2 separate regions of the Homo sapiens genome follow, and region 2 is linked to region 1. Evidence: fine-mapped expression QTL. A gene starts in region 1. The other region holds a variant in brackets. All regions are shown on one strand. Distances are between the middles of the regions. Region 1 holds the start of LINC00469 (long intergenic non-protein coding RNA 469). Region 2 overlaps LINC00469 (long intergenic non-protein coding RNA 469).

Region 1 (11,892 bases):
CTAGAATTTATAGGAGCAAAACTTCTTCAGTCCAGCGTACGTGTCTGGAAGATTCTCTGCTGCTCAGCTCTATATGGAGTTGGACAACTGGTCGGCATCTGTTCCCTAAAAACTTTAGATTGTCACCTCCTCAAGGGCATAGCTATGCCTCCTAGATTCCCAGCAGTATCAGAAGGAGACGCTGAGCTCGTAAGAGAATTTTAGTGCAGTGCTGGAGCCCTTAACACCCAATTCCCAGGCCCCCACCCTGCATGAACCAACTCTTGTCCAGGTTTCAAACTTGGACACACAATTCCCTTAATGCACAATTCTCAGGCCCCTCCCCTGCATGAGCCAACCCTTGCCCAGGTTTCAAACTTCAATTCCTTTTACCTATAGCGAAGTATGATTTTTTTCTCCATCACTTTATACCAAATAGAATGAAGAAAGTGAGGCAGGATGAGTGGATTTACGGCCTCAAATGAATTTCAAGATGAATAAGAACAGTCGCAATTAAAATCAAATTTCTGAGACAGGATTTGATCTCTTTCAAGGAGAGAGCGGGCCTGGCCTTGCCCACAGCCACAGATGCCCCTTAATGGGGTTTGAGATGCTAGGATGTGGGACTCGGGAGGAAACACCTGGGGAACGCCGCACCTTTGAAGCTCATTTTGTCAAGGTTCTTTCACGGCGGTATCACCGGAGACCAAATACCATTTTTAATTACTCACGAAAGCACGAGATGGTTGCCTCTTCTCAGGCACACTCCTCGCTCTTCACTTCAATCCTTTTTTTTTCTTTCTTTGAGACGGAGTCACTCTGTCGTCCAGGCTGGAGTGCAGTCGCGCCATCCCGGCTCACTGCAACCTCCGCCTCCCAGGTTCAAGTGATTCTCCTGCCTCAGCCTCCCAAGTAGCTGGGATTATAGGCACGCGCCACCACGCGCTGCTAATTTTGTATTTTTGATGGAGACGGGGTTTCACTATCTTAGCCAGGCTTGTCTCGAACTCCCGATCTCAGGTGATCTGCCTGCCTCAGCCTCCCAAAGTGCTGGGATTACAGGTGTGAGCCACTGCGCCTGGCTCTTCACTTCAGTCTTATCTTCAGGCTGTCTCTGTCTCCTTGGCTGGGGGAAAGACGCCAGTCAGCTATTTTTTCTGTGGCCCAGGTGAGGATAAATGAGGGCTCCAGGGGGTCAGGGATTTGCTCAGAGTTGGTTAGAAAAAAGCTTAATAGCTGCTGATACTGAGCACCTGCCAGGGGCTTGACACACTTTTTCTTTCATCTCGTGACTCCCGAGGTAGGTATGGTTAGTTTTATTTTGTGGGTGAGAAAACAGGCTCAGAAAGGTTATGAAACTGGCTCAGGGTCACATAGCGGGTGGCTGAAATTTAAATCTGGGTCTTCTGACCCAAAGCCTGGTGGTTTCCCATCTGCCCTCTTGATGCAGGAGTCCAAAGAGGAGGCCAGGGGGCATGCTCAGAAGCTGCGAAGGGGAGCTAGACCTGCCTCCATCAAGGAGTCCAGGTGTCTGGGATCCACCTGTCTACCTCCCTCCCAACCTTATGGAATATTCCTCAGAGTCTCCCCCTACCCAAATTTGGTAGGGTTTCTCTTCGTTCAGAAGCTCTGGCCTTCTTCTTCAGCTATTTCCTTATTTTGGTGGTGTCTGAGTGAACCCAGGACAAGACCTGCCAAGGAATTTTCTATGTCAGTCTGAAAGAAAAGCTCACCTCCTCCATCGCTTGCAGCAGGGGTTCCAGCTGGAGTCTGCAAAGCCAGGGCGATTCTCCCTTCCCCATAAGGGACATCTGGATATGTCTGGACACATTTCTGATTGTCACATCTGGGAGGGTGGGTGCTGATGACGTCTGGTGGGTAAATGCCAGGAGTGGTGTTAAACATCCGGCAAGGCCCGGGACAGCCCCCGCCACAAAGAATAATTCAGCTCAAAGTGTCACCACTGCTGTGGTTGAGAAACCTGCTGTGAAAAATGCCAGGAGGGAGGAGAAAGGAGCCCCTTAACTTCAGTGCCTTATGTCCATGGGACACTGACACCCCCAGGCAGAAGCAGCCACTTCACTTGGCAGGGCGGCACAAAATGAAAATGTTGCAATTCTTGTGAAAAATGATTTAAAATTTCAAGACAGCAACAGCAGACCATTAAACAAGGGCCTGTGGGACTGGCCAGGACACCCACCTAGGAAGCTGGAAAGAGCTCTCTGCTGGTCCCTGGGATCCCCTGGGTGCCCTGTCCTCAGCTCTCAGGCTTGTAGTCACACGACTCCTCCAAAGAGTTCAGGCCAGAACACTGAGACGGCAGTGCCTGCTGAGAATCTGAAGTGGCAGACTCACCTTTCCTTTATGGAGGAAAAAATCTCACTTTTGACTGTCAGGGAATGAAGGGACAGGACTCAGAGGACTGTCTAGGAGGTCCTGAGTCCTCCCCCGTCCTACTGCTTCTTGGGAGGGTCAATATGCCACGAGGGTTTTCAAGCACAAAGTAATTAAGAGGAGGAGCAGAAAGCTTCCAGTCTCCAAGCTGGTAGCCCCCAGGGCTGAATCTGTGGTTTTCTGTTTGCTGTGACACTTCATCTGTAGAGGGCCGCTCTGGGAAAGAGCGGTGCATACTGGGCTCCATCTGAGGAACAGATCCTGGAAATGACCTTCTCTCCTTGTCTCTCCCTGTCTCTCCCACACCCCCTCAATAAGCAGCCTCCTGCCATTTATTTCAATGATATTGCTTTTGTTTTGTTTCATTTTTCTTAAGCATTTTATTTTTATTTTTATTTTTGAGAGGGAGTCTTCCTCCGTCACCCAGGCTGGAGTGCAGTGGCATGATTTTGGCTCACTGCAACTCTGCCTCCCAGGTTCAAGCGATTCTCCTGCCTCAGCCTCTGGAGCAGCTGAGATTACAGGCACACACCACCACACCTGGATAATTTTTGTATTTTAGTAGAGACCCGTTTTTGTCATGTTGGCCAGGCTGGTCTCGAACTCCTGGCTTTAAGTGATCTGCCCGCCTCGGCCTCCCAAAGTGCTGGGATTACAGGCGTGAGCCACTGTGCCCAGCCTTGAGCATTTTACAGTTAGATTGTTCTTCAGGGTTGAGGGTGTTTTTGCAAACCATCTCACATGCCTTTGAGAAGATCGGAGGGAGGGCTGCAGGGGTGTGAGTGGTAGCCCAGGTGGACAGGAGCAGCCACGAGGGGCCCACCGTGAATCAGATCGTCTGTGGAACAGGAGAGAAGGGCCCTGCCACCTGCTCAGGCAGCCCCCACAGCAGATAGTTGTAGATTTCCAGAGCTTCAGCTTCCCTTTCAAGAGTGGAGGGGAAAAAAAGCAAGAGGAAGGCCTGGGGGCTAGGGCAACCCACCCACCAGACAATGATCACAGACCAGCCACCATCAGCCACAAATTCTGCAGCTCAGGTCTAATAGTAATCACTGGTGCTGTAAACATTTAAGCACCTACTGCCTTCTGGTACGCATATGGGCATCAGCATGGTAAGTAGCGAAGAGCATGGATGGACCCTTGAACCAGACTCCAGCTTGAATTCCAACTGCCACTTAATGGCTGTATAACCTTAATCTCTCTGTGACTTAGTTTCCTTGTGTATAAAGTGTGGGACCTACCTCATCGGGGTCACTATCCATAGCTTAATTTTTATAAAGTGCTTAGGAAAGTATTTGACACGTGGTAAGCACTAATATAAAGAGGTGTAAAGAAAAATCATGCCTATAATCCTAGCACTTTGGGAGGCTGAGGTGGGTGGATCACTTGAGGTCAGGAGTTCAAAATCAGCCTGGCCAACATGAAGAAACCCCGTCTCTACTAAAAATAGAAAAAAATTAGCTGGGCGTGATGGTGCACACCTGTAATCCCTGCTACTCAGGAGGCTGAGGCAGGAGAATTGCTTAAACCCGGGAGGCAGAGGTTGCAGTGAGCTATCGCACCACTGCACTCCAGCCTGGGCAACAGAGCGAGACTCTGACTCAAAAGAAAGACAAAAATTAAATTACCAGATTTAATCCCCATGGTAACCCTAAGAGGTAGGGACTGTTATCGTCCACATTAATAGACAGGACACTTGGAACACAGAGAGGCTGAGACCCAGGTCCAGAGTCACACAGCTCGTCTGAGGCAGAGCCTGGATTCAAATCCAAGCAGTCTGGCTTTCTGTAGGACTGTGTCCTCTCTCCAAGGGGAGGATGGAGCTTGACCACCTGTGTTCAGGTCCTGGCTTACCCATCAATTAGCTTGGGCTCCAATATCCTCCTCTGAAGTCAAGGAGGTTCCCCAGATGTCGTGGATGACTCCCATGAGTGGCTCTTAGAGGCCAGGAGGCCTGGGTGTCTAGTCAGTGTCCTGGCCTCAGTCCTGGCCTCTGGGACAAGGGAATTGTGGATAGGGGAGCAGCTGTCCCTGAGCAGGGTGGATGGATGTGGCAGTTTCCAGCCCAGCTCACTGCACCCGCTGTCAGCCGTTATTGAAACACATAGCCAGGGCTGGGTAACAAGACGGCCACAGAAATGATCTGAAGTGGATTTAATCATTGCCCTGGTCCCTGCCAACTCTTGTCCACTTAGGGGTTTTGCCTGTCTCGCTCGGACTTGACAGTCTGGACACTCAAGGTGATGAGCTGCCCAGAGCACCCAAGACCCAGACTCCACCCAGGACTGTCCTCTCCTGGACCACCTGCCTGAAACTTCCATCCTGACCCTTCTCCACCTTCTCAATGGGACCTGGGGTGAGAGCCCAAGCTGGGAGCGCCGGCCTGGCATTGTGTAGTTTAGACAAGTCCTTGAAGCAGGGCAGGTGGGGGAATGGGGAGGAGTCGGGGGCTCAGGCCCCCATGTTCCTCCCCAGCACAGCCTCACCTGCTCTGCCTCAGAGTGACTCAGGACAAAATCCCCAGGTGGCTCTGATGGTACTTGAAGTGACAGAGGGAAGGAGGAATCTGGAATGGAGACCCCAGCCCCAGGCCCTTGAGCTCAACCCAGCACCAGCCCCCAGACCTGTTCACTCTTTGGCCTTCCAGGGCCAGCCCCAGGCTGGGCTGTCACTGATGTGGGTGAGCAGGAGTGGTCCCCGTTCCTCACAGGGGCTTCTCTCTATGCACACCTCACATCATCCCCCGACCTCCAGGCATAAACCAGCCTTGCAGCCCTGACTCCAGACCTGTCCAGAGAAAGTGCCACCTGCCTGGGGAGCTGATGCAGATGAGAGGGAAGGAGAGAGAGACAGTGTCCCCTGCACCATGCCCTGAACTTCCCAAGGGACCTTCATCAAGCTCCCCTGGGGGCTGTATTGTTAAAATGCACAGATTCTTGGACCTCGACTCTGGACTTCCAGAAGCGAAATCTCTGCGGGGGTGGAGGAATTGGGCACTGATTCTAATGAAGTCCCCAGGGCAATCTCACCTGCTTTAGAGCAGAGGTTGGTACCCTGGCTGCACATCAGAGTCTCATGGGAAATCTAAACACATCCGTTCCAGGGCCTCACCCCCAGACCAAGCAGACCAGTGTCAGGGCTGGACATCAGGCATTCGTATTTTGTAAAAAATGATTAAAATGTGCACCCAGGGTTGAGAACTGCTTCAGAATTTGCAGACCTCCAGCTGGGTCTGACCCAGGAAAACAGGAAACAAGAGAGATGGTGTCAGCTGGGGCCCTTCACTGGTGGGGCCAGGTGGGTGGGGGGAACATCCCCACGATCCAGGCGACCCCCACCGCTGGCCAGGCAACCTCATGGCTGAAGGCGAGGAGGGACGCAGGCACGAGGGCCTTGGCGTAAGGAAGCTGGCTCTGCAGTCAGGCCCTGCCCTGGGGCTGTTCAGATGCCCAGGAGGGCAGGTTTATGCGAATGAAGCAATTACAGAACCATTTAAAAGAGTGAGGGAACTTGGTCCAGAAATGCCTGTGGAGCTTTCAAAAGGGGTGAGTGACCTCATCCAGCCAAGAAAGGGTCTGGGAGAGAAGCTGGAGGCCGAGGTCTTCAGTCTAGGCTAGGGGAGGGGAGAGAACGTTTAAGAGGGTGGCAGGCATTCCTGTCCCAAGTCACCAACTGGGTAGCGCTCTTGTTTGTCTTATGCAAGAGTGTTTAGATAAGAACAGGCTTTTGCATTTCAAAAAGGAGCCTGTTCTTCCTCGCCTTGCTTCTTCCTGTGCTGAGTAAACGGAAGGCACACCCTTGTTTCCCTCCCTATTCACAGCTCCTCTGTCCGCCACAAAGACAACCTCCTCCCCTTCTGCCCTCGTCTTCTGCCTGTGGACATTCAAGGGACCCCGCTCCTCCTTCATCCTTTCTCTCCTGCACGAATGAATCGTTTCCCGTGAATCTGCTCTTTGAAAAACCCCTTCCTAACTTCCATCTCTCTTCCTCTGCTCTCTTTGATGCCATCGCTTCTTAAAAGGGAGGCCTAGACTCACTGCTGTCTCACTTTTGTACGTTTATTTTCATCATGGTAAAATATACATAGCATAATATTTACCATTTGAGCCCTTTTAAGGTGTACAATTCAGTGGCATTTACATTCAAAACATTGTGCAACCATCCTGATGATCTATTTCCAGAGCTTTTTTTTTTTTTTTTAAATCATCCCAAACAAATTCTGGAACTGTGAGATAATAATGTCCCATTCTTTTCTCCTCCCAGTTCCTGGTAACCTCCATTCTTTCTGTCTCTATGAATTTGCCTATTGTAGAAACCTCGTGTAAGTGACATCATTCCATATGGGGCCTTTGTGTCTGGCTTATTTCACCTAACATCATGTTGCAGCAAGGTTCATTTCATTTCTTTTTATGGCTGAATAATATTCCCTCGTACAGATGGACAGCAGGTGTTGACCTATTCATCGGTTGTCTATTCGGCCTCCACAATCCACTGTTTTCATCCCTTCTTGCTGTCTCTACTTCTATGACCCTGGCCTAAGTCACCATTTTCTTCCACCAGAGTGCTCAGTGGCCTCCTCTGAGATTTCACTCTTTTTTTTTTCTTTTAAACAGCGTTATTGAAATGTAATTCATATATTATGTAATTCTCCCATTTAAAGTGGACAATTCAGGCTACTCTGCCTATGGAGTGGCCATGCTTTTGTTTCTTTACTTCTCTAATAAGCTTGCTTTCACTTAAAAAAAAAAAGTATACAATTCAATGGTTGCTAGTATATTCCATGTAGCTGCAATCGTCACCGTGGTCCATTTTACAGCATTTGTATCACCTCAAAAAGAAGCTCTGACCCTTCAGCTATCTCCCCTCCCCAACGCTCACCCTTACAGCCCTAGGCAACTAGTAATCTACTTTCTGTCTCTAGAGATTTGCCTCTTCTGGGCATTTTGTCTAAATGGAATCATACAATCCGTGGTCTTTTGTGAATGGCTTCCTTCACTTATCGTGATGGTTCCCGGGTTCATTCATGCTGTCCTATCGGCACTTCATTCCTTTCTATGGCCAAATAACTACCTCATTGTATGGATTCATTGGTGGACATTTATGTCGTTTCTATCTTTGGGCTATTACAAATAATGCTGCTTTAAACATTTTGTACAGGTTTCTGTATGAATATATGTTTTCGTTTCTCGTGGGTCTATACAGAGGAGTGGAACTGTGGGTCACACGGTAACTCTGTGTAATCGTTTGAGGACCTGCAGGCCACAGTGGCTGTCCTGCCTCCTCTCTTGCCTCTTTCAAAACTCCTCTTCACAGAGCAGCTGATGCGATCTTTCAAAAATGAACTTCAAATCATGTTTCATCTTTCTTGTAAAATCCTTCAATGACTTCCCAGCGTTCTTAGAATAAAACAAACATCATCACCATGGTCTACAAGACCCTGTGGCTGGGCACCAACTCCTTCTGGGACCATCCCTGCCTGCCTGTAGGGCTCCCGCTCCTTTGGGCGTCCCGGCCGCTGCTCCAGCAGGCCTAGGAACTTTCTCGTGAAGTCATCTGCGCTGGCTCCTCCCTCTGCTGGAACAGTCTTCGCTCTTGTTTCAGCCTCCTGTGGACGCTGTAACCAATTGCCATCAACTGGGTGCCTTCAAACAACAGAAATGGCTTCTCTCATCATTGTGGAGGCCCAGCTCTAAAGTCAAGGTCTTGCCAGGGGCCTGTTCCCTCTGAAGGCTGTGGGAGAGCATCCTCTTTGCCTCTTCCAGCTGCAGGTGGTTACCACCAATCCTCCGGGTTCCCTGGCTTGTAGCTGCATCGCTGCAGCCTCTGCCACTGTTGTCACGAGGCCATCTCCCTCTGCGTGTCTGTGCTTTCACTGTCTTTCCTCTGTGCATGGCTGTGTCTCTTCTCCCTTCATATGAGGACACAAATCATATTGGGTTAAGGGCCCATCTTACTCTAGTATGACCTCACATTAACTACATCTGCAATGATCCTATTTGCACATAAGATCATATTCTGGCAGGGCATGGTGGCACACGCTGCAATCCCTGCACTTTGGGAGGTCAAGGTGGGAGGATTGCTTGAGGCCAGGATTCAAGACCAGCCTGGGCAACACACTAAGACCCTGATTCTTTAAAAAAAAAAAAAAAAAAAAAAAATTCTGAGGTTCCTGGAGAAAATATGAATGGTGGTGGGGGCAGGGGAGGGCACTATTCAACCCTGTATAGCACAGTTCCTCATGTCCCAGCTCAGATTTCAACTCCTTCTCACCCACTATCCCCACCCCAGCTCCCCTCTCCCAGGGCACCTTTCTGGTTTCTTTTTGGCACCTTCACAAGCTGTAAGTAGGTGTTGTTGTTGGTTATTCATCCATTTCCCCTACTGGGTGAAAGCTCCCTGAAGGCTGCTCCTTGTCTATCAAGCTCATCACTCTGCCACTGTGATCCACTGCCTGATGCAGGGTGACTCTTCAGCAACGTGGAAGGAGACAGGGAAGATCCTGGTCCTGCAAGAGGAAGCCTGGACACAAGGTGTGCATGGGCCCCGAGCAGTCCACCAACACACGCTGTGGCGTGTATCAGCACTTCCTTCCTTTACATGGACAAATGCGATCCCATCATATGGACACACACACTCCGTTTATCCATTCACCAGTTGATGGACATTGGCATCGTTTCCATCTTTTAAAAAGAACATATAGTTGTACATATTTATGGGGTATAGTGTGATGTGTCCACACATGTATAGCTTGTGTAAGGATCAAATCAGGGTAATTAGCAAATTCATCACCTCCAATATTTGTCATGTCTTTGCGGTGAGCACATTCGAAGTCCTCTCTTCTAGGTATTTTGAAATATTCCGTACATTAGTATTAACAATAGCCACTCTTCTGTGCCAGAGAAGAACAGAATGTTTTCCTCCCATCTAATTGTATGTTGTTTTCATCATGGTGTCCACCGTGAGGCCTTGGCCTTTGGCGTACCAGTCACTGAGTGCTCAGTGGGTGACTCCAGCCCATCTCAACAACGTTGGTGACAGTGTCAGCTCTCAAGGGCAGGATTCAGTCATCCAACCCACTTTGCACCTCCAAGCATCGATGACAGGTGGGTATTCAGAAAACGTGCTGAAAACTTCATGGAAGCTACAGCTCGACTCCCAAGAGAGAAGCCTGTCTTTGAAGTGCCTGTGGAATGAGAATGACCTTCCTCTGTCAAACTTCCTTTCCAGTATGATGTTTTAGTCAATCCAGAGATGTATTCCTTCCTGTGCATTGGGGATGGACTTGCATCTGGGGAGGGTGTCTGGGGTCAGATCATCCCAGGCCACTAGGACCTGAGGTGTTGAAAATCCTGGAGGATCACTGCTGTACCCAGTGCATTGACGGCCCCACTCTCCTGGCCGTCTGCCTTCTACAGCCTCTGCTGAGATGAAGGCAATTTGGCTGGATGTGGTGAGGAATCTGTACAGGGAAGAGAGGCTGTTGCAGAGGAGGCAGCTGTAGGAGCGTCAGCACCCAGGAACGCACTCTCTGGAGCCTGGTGCAGAAATAGCACCCACTGCGTGTGGTGAGTGTCTGGTGTCTGGCATTCTGTGATGCTCTTCGGTTTTAAGACACCTGCCAGGAACAAAGTGGGGACTGGTAAACCAAGGTGCAAGATTGCAAAAGAGGCTCTACTTCCCCCTGCCTTCCTGTATTCTCATCCTTTGCAATATGACTTTGCATCTTCCCCCATCAAGAGCTGGAGTCTATTTCCCTCCCATATTAGCTTCCTAGGGCTGCTGTAGCAAATTGCCATAAAGCAGGTGGCTGAAACAACAGAATAAGTCCAAAGTCAAGTTGTTGGAAGGGCCATGCTCTCTCTGAAGGCTCTAGGGGAGAATCCACTCCAGATCTCTCTCCTGGTGTCAATCCTTGGACTTGCTTGGCTTGTAGCTCCATCACTCCAATCTCTGCCTCTGACTTTGTGTGTCTTTCTCACTGTGTCTCTCTGTCTCTGTGTCTTCCTCTCTTCTTACAAGGATGCCGGTCATTGGATTTGGAGCCCACTCTAAATCTAGGATGTTTGCACCTGGAGATCCCTAATTATTTACATCTGCAAAGACCCTATTTCCAAGGAAAGTCACATTCTGAGGTTCCAGATGGACACGCATTTTTTGGGGACACTATTCAAACTACTACACCACCCCTTGAATCTGAACTGGCCATTTGTCTTGCTGTGGTCAACAGAAGCTGGTAGAAGTGACAATGTGTCCACTCTAAGGCCATGAAGCCTCCACTCTTGACCGTGGAACACTAAGACCACCTGTGAACAAGCCTGAACTAGCCCATGGCCCAGCTAGGCCAACCAGCCTCCAGCCCACCCAGCAGTTGTGCAGATGAATGCAGCTGAGCTCAGTGAAGCTCAGTAGAACATCTCAGACCAGCTGAGTCCACTGTAAATTGGCAAACCACAGAATTGAGACTGAGTATATGGTTGTTGTTTGAGGCCACACCAAGTTTAGGGTTATTTGTTACACAGTAGTCGATGACTGATTCACAAGGTGTTATTGGTTTAGGGCAAATGGGAGATGAGTGCCATTTCTGGGTGCTGCCCACGTATAACAAAAACCAAAGTCTTGGCTGGGCGCAGTGGCTCACACCTGTAATCCCAGCACTTTGGGAGTCCGAGGTGGGAGGATCACGAGGTCAGGAATTCGAGACCAGCCTGGCTAAGATGGTGAAACGCTGTCTCTACTAAAAATACAAAAATTAGCTGGGCATGGTTGCAGGCACCTGTAGTACCAGCTGCTCGGGAGGCTGAGGCAGAAGTTTGAACCTGGGAAGTGAAGGTTGCAGTGAGCCGAGATAGTGCAATTGCACTCCAGCCTGGGTGACAGGGTGAGACTCCATCTCAAAAAAATAAAAAAATAAATAAATAAAATAAAATAAAAAACTAAAGGCTTGGATCTAAACCATCTACTAGTGGCAGGAAGTCTAGGCATCTTCTGAGCCACCCTCAGGATCAAATAAAGCTACTGGCTGGGTGTGGTGGTTCACGTCTGTAATCCCAGCACTTTGCGAGGCCGAGGCGGATGGATCATGAGGTCAGGAGTTCAAGACCAGCCTGGCCAAGATGGTGAAACCCCGTCTCTACTAAAAATACAAGAAATTAGCTGGGCATGGTGGCAGGCGCCTGTAATCCCAGCTACCTGGGAGGCTGAGACAGGAGAATCACTTGAACCCAGGGGGCAGAGGTTGCAGTGAGCCAAGATGGTGCCACTGCACTCAAGCCTGGGCGACAGAGTGAGACTCTGTCTCTAAAAATAATAATAATAATAATAATAATAATAATAATAATAATAATAATAATAAAGCTACTGAATCCCTTCACCAATGGAGGCACGCTCATATACCTCTTGGCATCTCTCTACAGTCCCCTTAATGTGCAGCCATGCACACAGTGGTGCCTATTAAAGGCATGGAGGTGGTGGTGGAGAACATGACAGAAGCTAGGTTCGTAGCCCATTAGAGTCATGAAA
Region 2 (11,892 bases), 55 kb before region 1:
GGTCCATTACAGGGACTTAGGGCGGGGAAAGAGAGAGTGAGCAAAGGCTGGGGCATTTTCAAGGCCAGAAAGAGAGGGAGGCTTCATTCTTCCATGGCAAAGGGAGAGCCGGACCACCCTAAACAGCTCATCCCGAGCACAAAACTTACCCCACCTTACCGTAAAGACTGTGTGTCGTCACTGGTGGGACTAGTTATAGACATAATCCTTCTCTGTAGGCTGACAACCCACAGACCCCACAATCACTTCTGGGAGCCTGAGGCTGCAGCCCAGGGCTAGGATACCCAGCTAAAGTGGAACTTCAGAGAAACAATGGGGAAAATTCTAGTATATCTCAAATATTGCATGGGACATACTTATGCCAAAACCCTACCCACTGTTTAGTTTTGTTGTTAGGCATTCTGTGATTTGACTTGCTAAATCTGGCAGTTCTACCTAGAGCCTAAATACCTTCTTCTCACAATTCCTAAGCTGAGAAATGATCGTTTGTCCCCAAGCAATCGCTGGATCCAGTAGAGGCAGCACGAGGACTGTAGGCCGGAGGCGAAGGATTCCCAGCTCTGAGGATTGGTACAAAAATCCAAAGGGTTTCTTGTAGAGCCAGTTTGAGGTGGATATACGGACCAGGCAACCTAACAAGGTGGTTTTGCCCTGGGATTCAAACATAGGAAAACTAGAAGGGGAAAGGAAAGAGGCCCTTATTTTTTGGTGTTAATCATCATTTACTACATGGAGACTTTTTAAAAAAAAAGACTGGGATGTTTCTTGGTTAAATGGTGAAAGGGAAATGAAATTGACAGGGCCCTTAGCTGGCTTGTCCCTGCAGAGACTAGAGCTTCTCTCTTCCAACAGAGTATTGACTCAACCCACACATAGATCTTTCTGTGGGAACTAGGAGAACAGAGATGTCCCCCTGCCTTCCTGATGAGAAACATTGTCAGAGTTACTGGCCTTTGATCCCAGACTAGCAAGCATACCATTGAGTCCAGGTCCCACTGGGACATGAGCAAGGTGGAGATTGTTCAGCCCTGATATAAATGCGGGAGGGGAGCTTCATGGCTCCAGGGTAGTCGTAGACCCCACCACCTACATGAGGGACCCTCTGGAATCACAGGGCATGGTCTAGAAGCCAGACAAAAATCTTCTCTGATGCCTTTCCCTGGGATGGGAGGGGGTTTCAGTAGCTGGAGTCCCCGAACGCTGTGCCCCTTGGCCCAGCCTCTATCAGCACTGGGGTTGACCCACTACTGAAATTCAGTGGGCGTTCCTTCCGCTGCTGCCAATTTCACCACTGTCAAGTGTGGTTACAGGTGCAAGGAGTGGGTGCAGCAGGGGGCAACAACTCCTCAAGGGAGCTTTGGCAGGAGGGGTGCAGCCATGGACCACGATGGGGATTGTGCCTGGCTGGTGAAGACCCAGGGAGTCCCCAGAACAGAGAGCTCTAGGGTGAGACACAGAATCCTCCCAATGCCCCACCTGCCAACCCCCAGATGCAGCTGGGGTTCTAGCTGGCTCCAGGCCCCACGGTGCCCGGAGGGCTACAGTGGATAAAGTCTGCTAAAAGTTACACTGTATTTATTTATTCCCTAGAAGTACAGAGAGACCTGCATAAGAGGAAAGGGCAAGGCATATAGAGACCATAAAAAGAGTTGAGTTTTTATGTAGTGGTAACCTGGGGAATTAATTTCTGGCTAACAGAGGTCGCACGACAATAACTGAGTTTTGAACAAGCACAGTTCAAAACTCCCTGGGGAGGTACGGAGAGGCCACTGAGCCTTGAAGGCAGGATGGAGGTGGGTGGAGTGAGGGGTGGGAGATGGCCAGGGCTGGCCTTGGGGACATGGGTACTAGGACCCAATTTCAAAGCACAGTAAGGCTAATAACTAAATGCTGGTTTCATTCAGTCCACATTTATTGGGCACCTACTGTGTGCCTAAACCTGAGTGAATAACATGGGGATTACAGTGATGGATAAACTGGGGCCCCACTCTCAATACTGTCATTGTCTTTTGGGGGGGTACCAGGAATGATGCTACCTGTGACTGGGCCATCAGGCATGACAGATAGAGCATGACCTGGGAATCAGACCCCATGGGCAGGAATTCTGCTTCTTTACTATAAACTCTGCCACCTTGGCAAGATGCTTAATCTTTCTCCCTCAGTTTCCTCATATAGAAAATAAGAATAATCCTACTTTCTGCCTCTTGAGATTGTGATGAAGATTTATGTGAACAGAAATGGCCTGGCATGTAACACCTTCTATCAGGACACACACTCTGAGAAACAGCTTCACTGAGTTTGAGGCAAAGTATTATGATGGTCCAGAGTGACTCATCCAGTGGAGGGGTCCAGGAAGGCTTCATGGAGGAGGTGACTTCTGATTTAGGTTTTAAAGCATGAATAAGATCTACATGAAGGGAGAAGAGAGGCACAACTTCTAGGCAGGTGCTACAAGCTGTGGCGGGAAGAATAGGAGGGGCCACGTGGCACTGAGTGCTTGATGTCCTGGGGGTGTTCTGGCCAAATTTAGGGAGCCCCCCCTTAAATATATAAGGCTGAGCTCAGGATGGTGGGCAGGCGGTGACCACACGTGGGGAGGAAACCAGAGCACCTGGTACAGTGCCCAGTCCCGGTCTTCTCCAGATACTGATGAAGGGGTGCGGGCATATTTTGGCTGAAGGCAGCAGCCCTAAGCTCCGGAAGACACCACATTCACCAAGTCAGAACCCTCGGGATGGGAGCCAAAGAATGTTTTCTAGCACTCAGTGAGAGAACAGGCCCGGGCTACCTGATTGAAAGACACCGCAACCCACACGTGTAGCCTTACATTTTCCAGCAGCCACATTAAAAAAAAGTGAAAAGAAACAGGTGAGATTGCTCACAATAGCATACGTCATTTAACCCAATATATGAAAAATGCCATGATTTCCATGCATAATAAATATAAAAGAATTATTTATGAGATATCTTGCCATCTCTTTTTCATACTGGGTCCTAAAAGTCCTGTGTGTATCCCACACTTCAGGCACCTCACTAGCCCAGTGTCCAGTGATCAATAGCCACATGTGGCTCAGGGCTGTCATATCCAACAGCACAGTGATGAAATCACAGTGAAACTTCTCCACTCTCCAGTCCAGAGACGGCCATCTCCCCATGGCCTCCGCAGGGCATTCTCCAAACTCACACATCTGGAGCCAATGCCCACGGGCTCCTGGCTGGTCATTCTGTGTTGTCTGATACTGTTCATGTTGGTGACCTTAGTGCTGGCCAGGGAGGGAGTCTGGCTCTCTTCTATTGGAGGTAATTGTGGAGTGGGGTGGCTGTGGGGCCTCAGAACACCTTGGAGCTCTCAAAGACCCTCTCACATCTTGGCCATTCCCACTTCCAGGACCAAAGCAATGATTCTGGGAATCAGCTGGGGCCACCACTGGAATAGAATGAGGCGATGGGGAGAGCCCAAGTTGGGAAAATGGAATCTTTGGTGACTGTGGGGGATGTGAGAGCCACAGACAGGAGATCACGGGTGCCTCTGCCTGCCACATATTTGAAAATGCACAAAGCAAGAGCCTCCCCTCTCCCCAGCACACGCAGGCACAGGGAAGTGTGATCATGGAATCAATTTATTTGTCTACTAATGCGCCAGGCACTGTGTTTTATAGGTATGAGCCCATGTCAGCCTCACGACAACCCTTGAGATAGGTCCTATCAGTGCCTCCATTTTAAAGATGAGAAAACAGAGGCACAGAGAGGTGAAGCATCTTGTCCGGAGTCACACAGCTAGTGGGTGGGGTAGCCAGGATTTGGACCTAGGGGGAGCTCCATCCGGGCACCAAGTCCACTGTCCCCTGGAAATCACATCATGACAAGGGGAGAAGGCAGTGGGGAGATGGAAAAGTTGGGAGGCTGTTCAGGAACTGGTGACAAGGAGGGGGAAGGCTGCCATCTGGCACCACCATGCAGGCAGTCCCAGATGGTGGAGAACCCACATCCACTGCCTGGCCGGGCTGGAACAGGATGGGGCGCAGACAGGCAGGTTCTCGGCAGACAGGCTCTGTGAAGAAGGTCTCATGCTTCCCCCATCCCACCCCAAGGGAGTGGCGAGGGAAGGGAAGCCTGTGACCTCATCATCTGGGCCAAGGCCAATGACATCACCAGGAGGGCAAGGAGCCAGGCCCAGCAAGTTATTTATGGAAACGGCTGGCGGCCAGGCACAGCTCCTGAGCTGTTTCAGATGTGGCTGGGATAAAGCCTCCAGCTGGCCCACTGGGGCTGCTGAGGCCAGGCAGGCGGGTGAGGATGAAGGAGGGCTGGAGGAGGGCTGGGGGAGTCAGCCCGCTGATGGGGCAGGGCTCTTCGAAGGCTCACTGGGGTCCCCAGCGGGGATCACTGGGGCACCATGCTTCTCCTTGGCGTCTGCCCATCTGTGTCCTCCCTTGCTCAGGGTGGACCTGTGGTCTCTGCAGCCTGCCATCAGGGTCTGAGTCTGGATGAGCTTAGAAAGAGCAGCATGGAGATTTCAATCACAAGCCACAGCTCATGTGTGCATCTATATTCGTGTGCCTGAGGGGATGTACTGTGTGCATGGCTGTTGTATGTGCGTCCCTGTCAATGGATAGATATACTCTCTGGTCCCTTGTATATTGCTCCCCTGAGTGGTCATAGGGGTAGTTAAGTTTGTGAGTTCATGGATATGGGCATCTCTGCATGAGTGTGTGTGTGTGTGTGTGTGTATGTGTTTGTAGGAGATGGGGAGAAGAGAGAGACAGAGTGCACAAGACCTAGCAAATAGGAAGAGAGGAGTCACGAGGGGAGAGAAATCACTGTAGGAAGTTGGGAAATATAATTTCAGTGGAGGATACAGAGGCACTTATGGAAGCTTCAGCAAAAGTAGACAAACCTTTCAATCCATTTATCAAAAATGCCTGCAGCTCTGCCGCCTGAGTAGGTGCAACAAGAATAAAATATTGAGCAGAACCAGTGATTGTGGGACTGGAGGAGGCCAATAAATAAGAAATTACTGAGATGCTCACCCTGAGTCCAATGAGTTTGCTCTGGCACTCCCTCTACTCATCATGCCCTGTGGTCTCTTGGGTGCTGGCTGGGACAAGCTAGCAGGAACCCACGTGGCCAGATCTCTGGCATTTTGACTTTAGGACTTCTGGAAGGATGCCTGGGAGAAT[CA/C]GGGGGAACAGAGCTGCCAAGCTCCACTCAGGTAAGCTTTGGTGTGGTGGTAACACAGGGGCCCTGCTTCTCATGCCTCTTGGCCTTGCTAGCTGCCCTCCTTCCCTTTAAAATCCTCCATGAGGGAACGAAATCTACAAGACCCTGAATGGAGCTTTGGTGGTTGATCTATGGGCTCTCGATGGAGCAACAGGGGTATGGGAATGGGAGCCAGGTCATGACCAAGGGGCTCCCAAACCTAGACCCCAGCCTGTGCTATCTACAAAGACCTCATCTTGCCTCCCAGATCTTAGGCCTTTTGAGTGATGGGTGGAGGGATGACACCATGAAACCTCCCACTGAATGGGAACCCCATCCTTTGGTACGTCCTCTTTCATGTCATGACCACCCACCCCAGAAAAGAAAACGAGCACTTTTTCAAATGCCCTTAAACTTGAACTCAGGATGAGTTGAAACAGGATGTCTCATTGATTTTTTTTTCACCTCCAAGTCCACAAAAGAGTAATGGGCACAGCTTTCCCCCTCCCCTCCCACACCCTGGCAACTGCCCCTCAACCCCCTGACCGATCACCTGCTTCCCTCACACCCACACAGCACCCCCTCAATAACAGAACTAGAATCGTTGCATCTCAATGCCAAGAACCACAATGGCAGGATAAACTGCCCGGGAGACCCCATCCAGGGCCATGGCTGTGGGAGTCACATTCTCTAACCTTCTCCCAGCTGTGATCAGCAGAATGGGAGAGGTCCAGCTGAGTGGCTCTCTGGGTTGCCAAGCTAAACACCCAGAAGGCAGGAAATAAGATTAACTCTCAGCAGGAAATAGAGGGATAAAGGTTGACTGGGGCAGTGGAGGCGCCAACTGGATGTTCCAAGGGACAAAAAGGAGGACCCTGGCTCTGTGGGAGCAGCCTGAGCTCACAGAATCCACTCCTTCTGCTTTCAGAAACACAGCAGATGGGAACTCCACTTTTTTAGAGTGTTCTGGGGAGGCAAATCCCCTATCTACAAGTTGTTCCTAGTTTCCCTGCCTCATTGCAGAAGGCCTATCTTAGGACCCAAGCAAGATGCAGTGTTGTTAGGCTCTTGGACCTGGAAAAGGTCCTGAGCTCTCCACTGCCCCACTGCCTCCACTGCACTCTCTAGGTATTTGTAACCGAGTATGATTGCATGTATATGGGTCTGCCCAAGCATGGGCACCTGTCCCTTCCAAAGGCACCCTCATCCTTGGGAGGGATGGAGGTGGAACAGCAGGACGAACTTCCCAGCAGTCAATCAATCTAGAATTCTGAAGACAATTTCACCCCCAGACGGCAACAGGATGAGCAGGATCAGGGAGCAGCACTCTTGTTTGCAGGGCTGGTACTCTCTATCACATTTCTAGAGCCTGTGAAATGCCATTCCAGGCTGCTGGTCCAGGACCGTTCTCCTTTCCTTGTTTCTCTAGCCCTGCTTCCATGCTGGACAGGCCTAAGTGTGTAGGGGGCGGTGGTTGAGGAAAGTTGATAGGGCAACCATCCCAGGTGGCTCTTTCCTTTGCCTTTGTAAAATCTGTAAGAAGAGGAAGCAGTCGTTTTCCTGGGGCGCTGGGGTATAGCCCCATAGATTGAAACTATGTGAGGCACAGCACCAAGCAGAAAGACCTGGTTTCCATCCTATCATCTGCGTCCCAGCGGCTCGCATTACTGGCTCCTTTAAAGACTGACATCTGGGCTTTGGCCAGTGCTCAGATTGCAAGAATAAGGAGCTATATCTCTAGTGAGATGGTCGGGGGGTTGTCATTGCACCAGCTTTCAAAGGGCTTTTCACCATTGTCATACTTTTCTTTTTCAGTCTTACTTAAGGAGATGTGTTCAAACAATGATGATGATGATGATATTGCCGTGTGCTTACTCTATGCTAGATGCTTCACTTTTGTTGTTCATTTAATTAGCACAATGATCCAATTAAGTAGGTATTATTATCTCCACTTTTCATATGAGGAAACTGAGGCCGAGAAAGGCTATGTGACTTTCCAATGGCCACGGGTATCCTGAACCCAAACCCAGGGCTGGATGACTACCAAGCCCATGCTATTGCTCGGGCACTTTTCTGCTTCTGCAAGGGAAGTGGTTTCAGGCAGAGAAAGCTAAAAGCTGGCCTGAGTGATTAGCTCTTCTCAGGGTGCAGAAGGCCCAGAACTTCAGGCAGAGGATGCACAGCCAGCGAGTGACTCATCTCGGTTTGCTTGAGACTTTTTAGCACTGAAAGTCTTGCCTTCTGGGAGCCCCATCAGTCTCGGGCACACTGAGATGGTTGGTACCCTAGATGGAGTGCACGCCAAGGACAGTGTGGACCAGGTACAGTGGATGGACCCTGGAGAACCACCTGCTCTGGGTGGTTGAAGGTAGTGGGCTCAAGTCAGTGGGCAGAATGAGATTTGCTGGCAAAGGCTCTTCTTTTTTTTCTTCTTCTTTTTTTTTTTTTTTGAGATGGAGTCTCGCTCTGTCACCCAGGCTGGAGTGCAGTGGCATGATCTCGGCTCACTGTAAGCTCTGCCTCCTGGGTTCACGCCATTCTCCTGCCTCAGCCTCCCGGGTCCACGCCATTCTCCTGCCTCAGCCTCCCAAGTAGCTGGGACTACAGGCGCCTGCCACCATGCCCGGCTAATTTTTTGTATATATATATTTTTAATAGTGATGGGGTTTCACCGTGTTAGCCAGGATGGTCTCAATCTCCTGACCTCGTGATCTGCCCACCTCAGCCTCCCAAAGTGCTGGGATTACAGGCGTGAGCCATCGCGCCCAGCCAAGGCAAAGGCTCTTCTGAGCAGCCAGTCTGTGGATCTGAAGGTCACCAGCTTGATCTACTCCTGTCTCCACTGGAAACAATGTACAAATCCTTCACCACGTTCATACTTGGCTGCAAGCATGCCCTGTGCCCCTGACATTGCTACGCCTGGCCCTGGGGCCCTGGCCCCATCTGAATCTCATTTCCCCTTAGATGGTAAATAAAGAGAATGATGGTTTTCTCAGCCTCTCGTACCACCAACAATCTCCACCCTCTGTCAGTCAAGTCATAGAAGGGTCATGGAAGGGCTGAACATACCAGGAATGTTGCCAGTGCTGGGGGCCCACACTGTCAGATGCAGGGTTCCGGGTCACTGGGGACCCAGCGAGATGGGACAAGGTGAGAAGAAGAGGAAAAGGAGAAAGGCAAAATTCCCAGCCAAAAAAAAAAAAAAGTTCAATCAGATTTGTAAAGGGCACAATTTACAAATCCGTCACATATTTTACTAGGCTGGGATTTACGGATTAGCCTGTAATACTTAGGCGGCTTTTTGTAATAAAACCCTGAGCCGAGGCAGTCTTGGGGAAGTGAGGAGGAGGAAGGAGGCTTCTCTCTCTATCTTGCTTTCATTTTCCCAGCATTTTTTGATCTAGGCAGTCCCATTAATCTGTGCTTTATCTGCCTATGGAGAAGGATTGAGCTCTTTATTGGATTTTTGTCAAGAATAAATGATTTAGTTTGGGATACTGTGGAAACGATTTTTGTGGTATTACACCATCTAATAAATGAAACAGCAGGGATCAATTCCTTTCTTGCAATGTGTTCAACAGGCAGGGTGAAATATGCCCCACAATTATTTGGTATTGCACTCCATAGATATTTATAACCGAGTAGGACTGCATGTATATGGGTCTGCCCAGGCATGGGCACCTGTCCCAGATGATGTGATCCATTAGTCCCAGAGCATGAGACTAGAGACCCAAGTGACAGGTCGGTCAGAAATGCTGACCAGGTTCACTCGAACAGTCAAGGCTGAGGGCTGGAGAGAAGGAATCAGGTTTGAAGGTGAGGGCTGCAGTTGAGAGACTGTATTTACCAAGGCTTGAGTGCTTTTCCTGGAGCTTTGGAAGTGAGAGAAACTAACAGGGTGGGACGTCATTGCCACAGCAGACCTGGCAAATGCCTGGTGCGTGGGGACTCTATGCAGAGAACTGAGGTCCCATCCCCTACCCATCCTGGGTACCCCCGTCCATGTCCCACTGGCCTCTCTCCCTGGACATTGCTTCGAGGGAAAATGTCTGGAAGTTTTTGGAGAAGGGACCTGGCTTTCTGTCCAGGTAGGCTCATAAGGTTTATATCCCTGAAGCCTCACAAATATTTATTGAGAGCCTATTACATGACAGCGCTTAGCACAGGCCTGGCCTGAAGTAAACTGGATATAGATATTTGTTCACAGATTGACAAACAGAAAGCCTTACAAGATGCCCTTCCCAGGCGCAAACCCACGTCACCCTCACAAGCAGAAACAGGGAATAGTAAGGATGAGGGACAGATGGTCGCTAGGAAACTGCAGCCTTCCTCCGATCCCTAACCCCAGGGGTAAAAACAGAATGATCGTGAAGGCAGGGAGCGGGGACAGGTGGTCCTGGGCAGCGTGGCTTATGCCCTGCCCATGGAGATGCCTGTGTTGGAGATGGTTGCTTACCCAGGTTTCACACGCCGGACATCAGCACCTTGGCTCAAATTGTTGAAAACAGTCCCCTTCGGTCTATCAGCGCCATCAGAGACATGTTGGACGTGACACCTTTGTGAGCTTTGTACACCTCAATATTCATCAAATGAAGGCCCGAAGAAATGGATGTCAGTATTAGCAAGATTCTTTCGCCCAGAGCTTCGTGGCGTTGGTATCTCCTTGGCTGGTCTTGCCTCCCAGCTGCATGCTCTGTAAATGTTTGTAGTGAGCGTGAGACACTACAGCTCTCTGTCTCTCTGCCTTAAGCCCACTCTATTTTTATACTATTTGGTATTATCTTTGCTGGCTGTTTTTTCTCTGCCACAATCAGAATTCTTGGGGCTCGGTGCCGACGGGAGGGGTTTTAAGTGTCTTTGGCAGGAAGAATTTCTTCTGTCTGTAGTTCAATCTGAAGTTCATTCACATTCTCCTTGCAAAGAATGGCGGATGCAGTGAGAGTTGCCGTAAAAGCGATGAAAAAGTCATCGGCAATCCTTACCACATCCGTACATCGGCAGCTCGGAGGCTTGACTGCTGGAGCGAGATGTGGCCCAAGACGCCCCGGTGGAGGCTAGGGTCCTCATGGTGCCATTTGCCCCAACTCCCAGGAGGGGCAGGGAGACGATTTCCTCTCAACTTCCCAGGCGGCTTTAGGATGTCAACTTGGGTCTTGGCCTGGAGCCCTTTGGATTCTTTCATGTTTTTCTTGACTTGCTAAGTGTGCTTTCCATCAGTTGGATACGGAATGCATCAAAACAATCATTATTATTTCAACCACAGCCTCCTCTGAAAGCGCTTTTTCTTGGATATAACACCTCTGTCTCAAGGCAGTTATTGCCATTCCAATGTGTTATGCTGTGATTTCATCCTCAGAGGGAGCTGCCACACTCAGAAAGCAAACAGACTCTTCCCACATCTCGGCATAGAGCAACCCTGTCCTTCCAGTTTGTTCTTCGGGCCACACATCTATGAGCCAGGACAGATGCATCTCTTTCTCCCACACTCCACATTCCATCCATTGGGAAATGCTGCCGGCTCTGCTTCAAACTGCCCAGAATCCCACATCATTCTTCCCCATTTCAAGTGCTTTTCTCCGGCTCCAGCTGGGACTCCTGCCCCATCCTGACCCTGGCAGCCCATGCTCAGCATGGCAGCCAGGGTGAGCCACTCACAGCTCAAACCGTTCAGACCTCCTCCTTTTCCCAGAACGAGAATTGGGTCTTCGCCATGGCCTCAGGGCCCCTTGCAATGTGGCCTGAGTGACCGCTCTGACCACCCCTTCCCCAGCTGCCCGCCCTACCCACCCCACAGCAGCCCCACTGGCTGCCTTGCCCTATGATCAAATAACCCAGGCAGTCCCCTGCCTCGGGACCTTTGCACTGGCTGTTCCTTCTGCCTGGAAGGCTTGTCCCACAGAGACCTGCATGGCTGATGGCTGACTCCATTACTGCCTTGAGATTCTTATTTCAAGGCATAAGGCAGCATTGTGCAGAGGATAAGAGCACAGACTGGAGCCCCACTGCCTGGCCTCAAGGGCCTTTGCTGACATTTACTGACCACCTGACACTGCAAATGGTATTTCACCTCTCCCTACCTCAGTTTTCTTCTCTGTAAAATGGGGAAATAATCACATTAATTCATACTGTTATAATGAGGATTCAATGATTTAATATTTGTAAAGGACTTATAGCCAGAATGAATGTGAAATAAGCGACTACCAAAGGAATAAATCAAATGAGCTGACATCAGGCACCCTATTTAAACATGCTGGCCAGGGCCAGGCGTGGTGGCTCATGCCTGTAATCCCAGCACTTTGGGAGGCCAAGGTGGGTGGATCACTCGAGGTCAGGAGTTCGAGACCATCCTGGCCAACATGGTGAAACCTCGTCTCTACTAAAAATACAAATATTAGCTGGGCTTGGTGGCACATGCCTGTAGTCCCAGCTACTTGGGAGGTTGAGGCAGCAGAATCGCTTGGGCCCGGGAGGCAGAGGTTGCAGTGAACTGGGATGGCACCACTGCACTCCAGCCTGGGTGATAGAGCGAGACTCTGTCTCAAAAAGAAAAGAAAAGAAAAGAAAGACAAACATGCCACTGGCTTCTCACCTCCATCCTACACTCCCAGTCTTTCTCCTCTCCTGTGCTTTTGCTTGTATTTCATTGTATGTATCCCTTCTTACTACATAATTTACTTATTTCTTTTGGTTGCT

What was found. PIP is the estimated chance that this variant, and not a neighbour inherited with it, causes the effect.
Region 2: its variant is fine-mapped to the expression of LINC00469 in whole blood (INTERVAL, PIP 0.96).

Annotation. Positions count from the first base shown.
Region 1 is chr17:73,821,976-73,833,867 of GRCh38, forward strand. LINC00469 (long intergenic non-protein coding RNA 469) reads right to left here and starts at 6,562. Exons shown (of 4, transcript NR_027146.1): 1 at 6,473-6,562; 2 at 1,713-1,850. RefSeq lists enhancers at 5,899-6,408, 7,399-7,900, 7,901-8,400.
Region 2 is chr17:73,766,543-73,778,434 of GRCh38, forward strand. The region is part of intron 2 of LINC00469 (long intergenic non-protein coding RNA 469); the gene reads right to left. Among named protein-coding and RNA genes, the nearest start is that of LINC02092, 14 kb to the right of the region's middle. RefSeq lists enhancers at 839-1,339, 3,690-4,191, 4,192-4,691. The variant CA/C (reference allele first, on the strand shown) is at 5,181.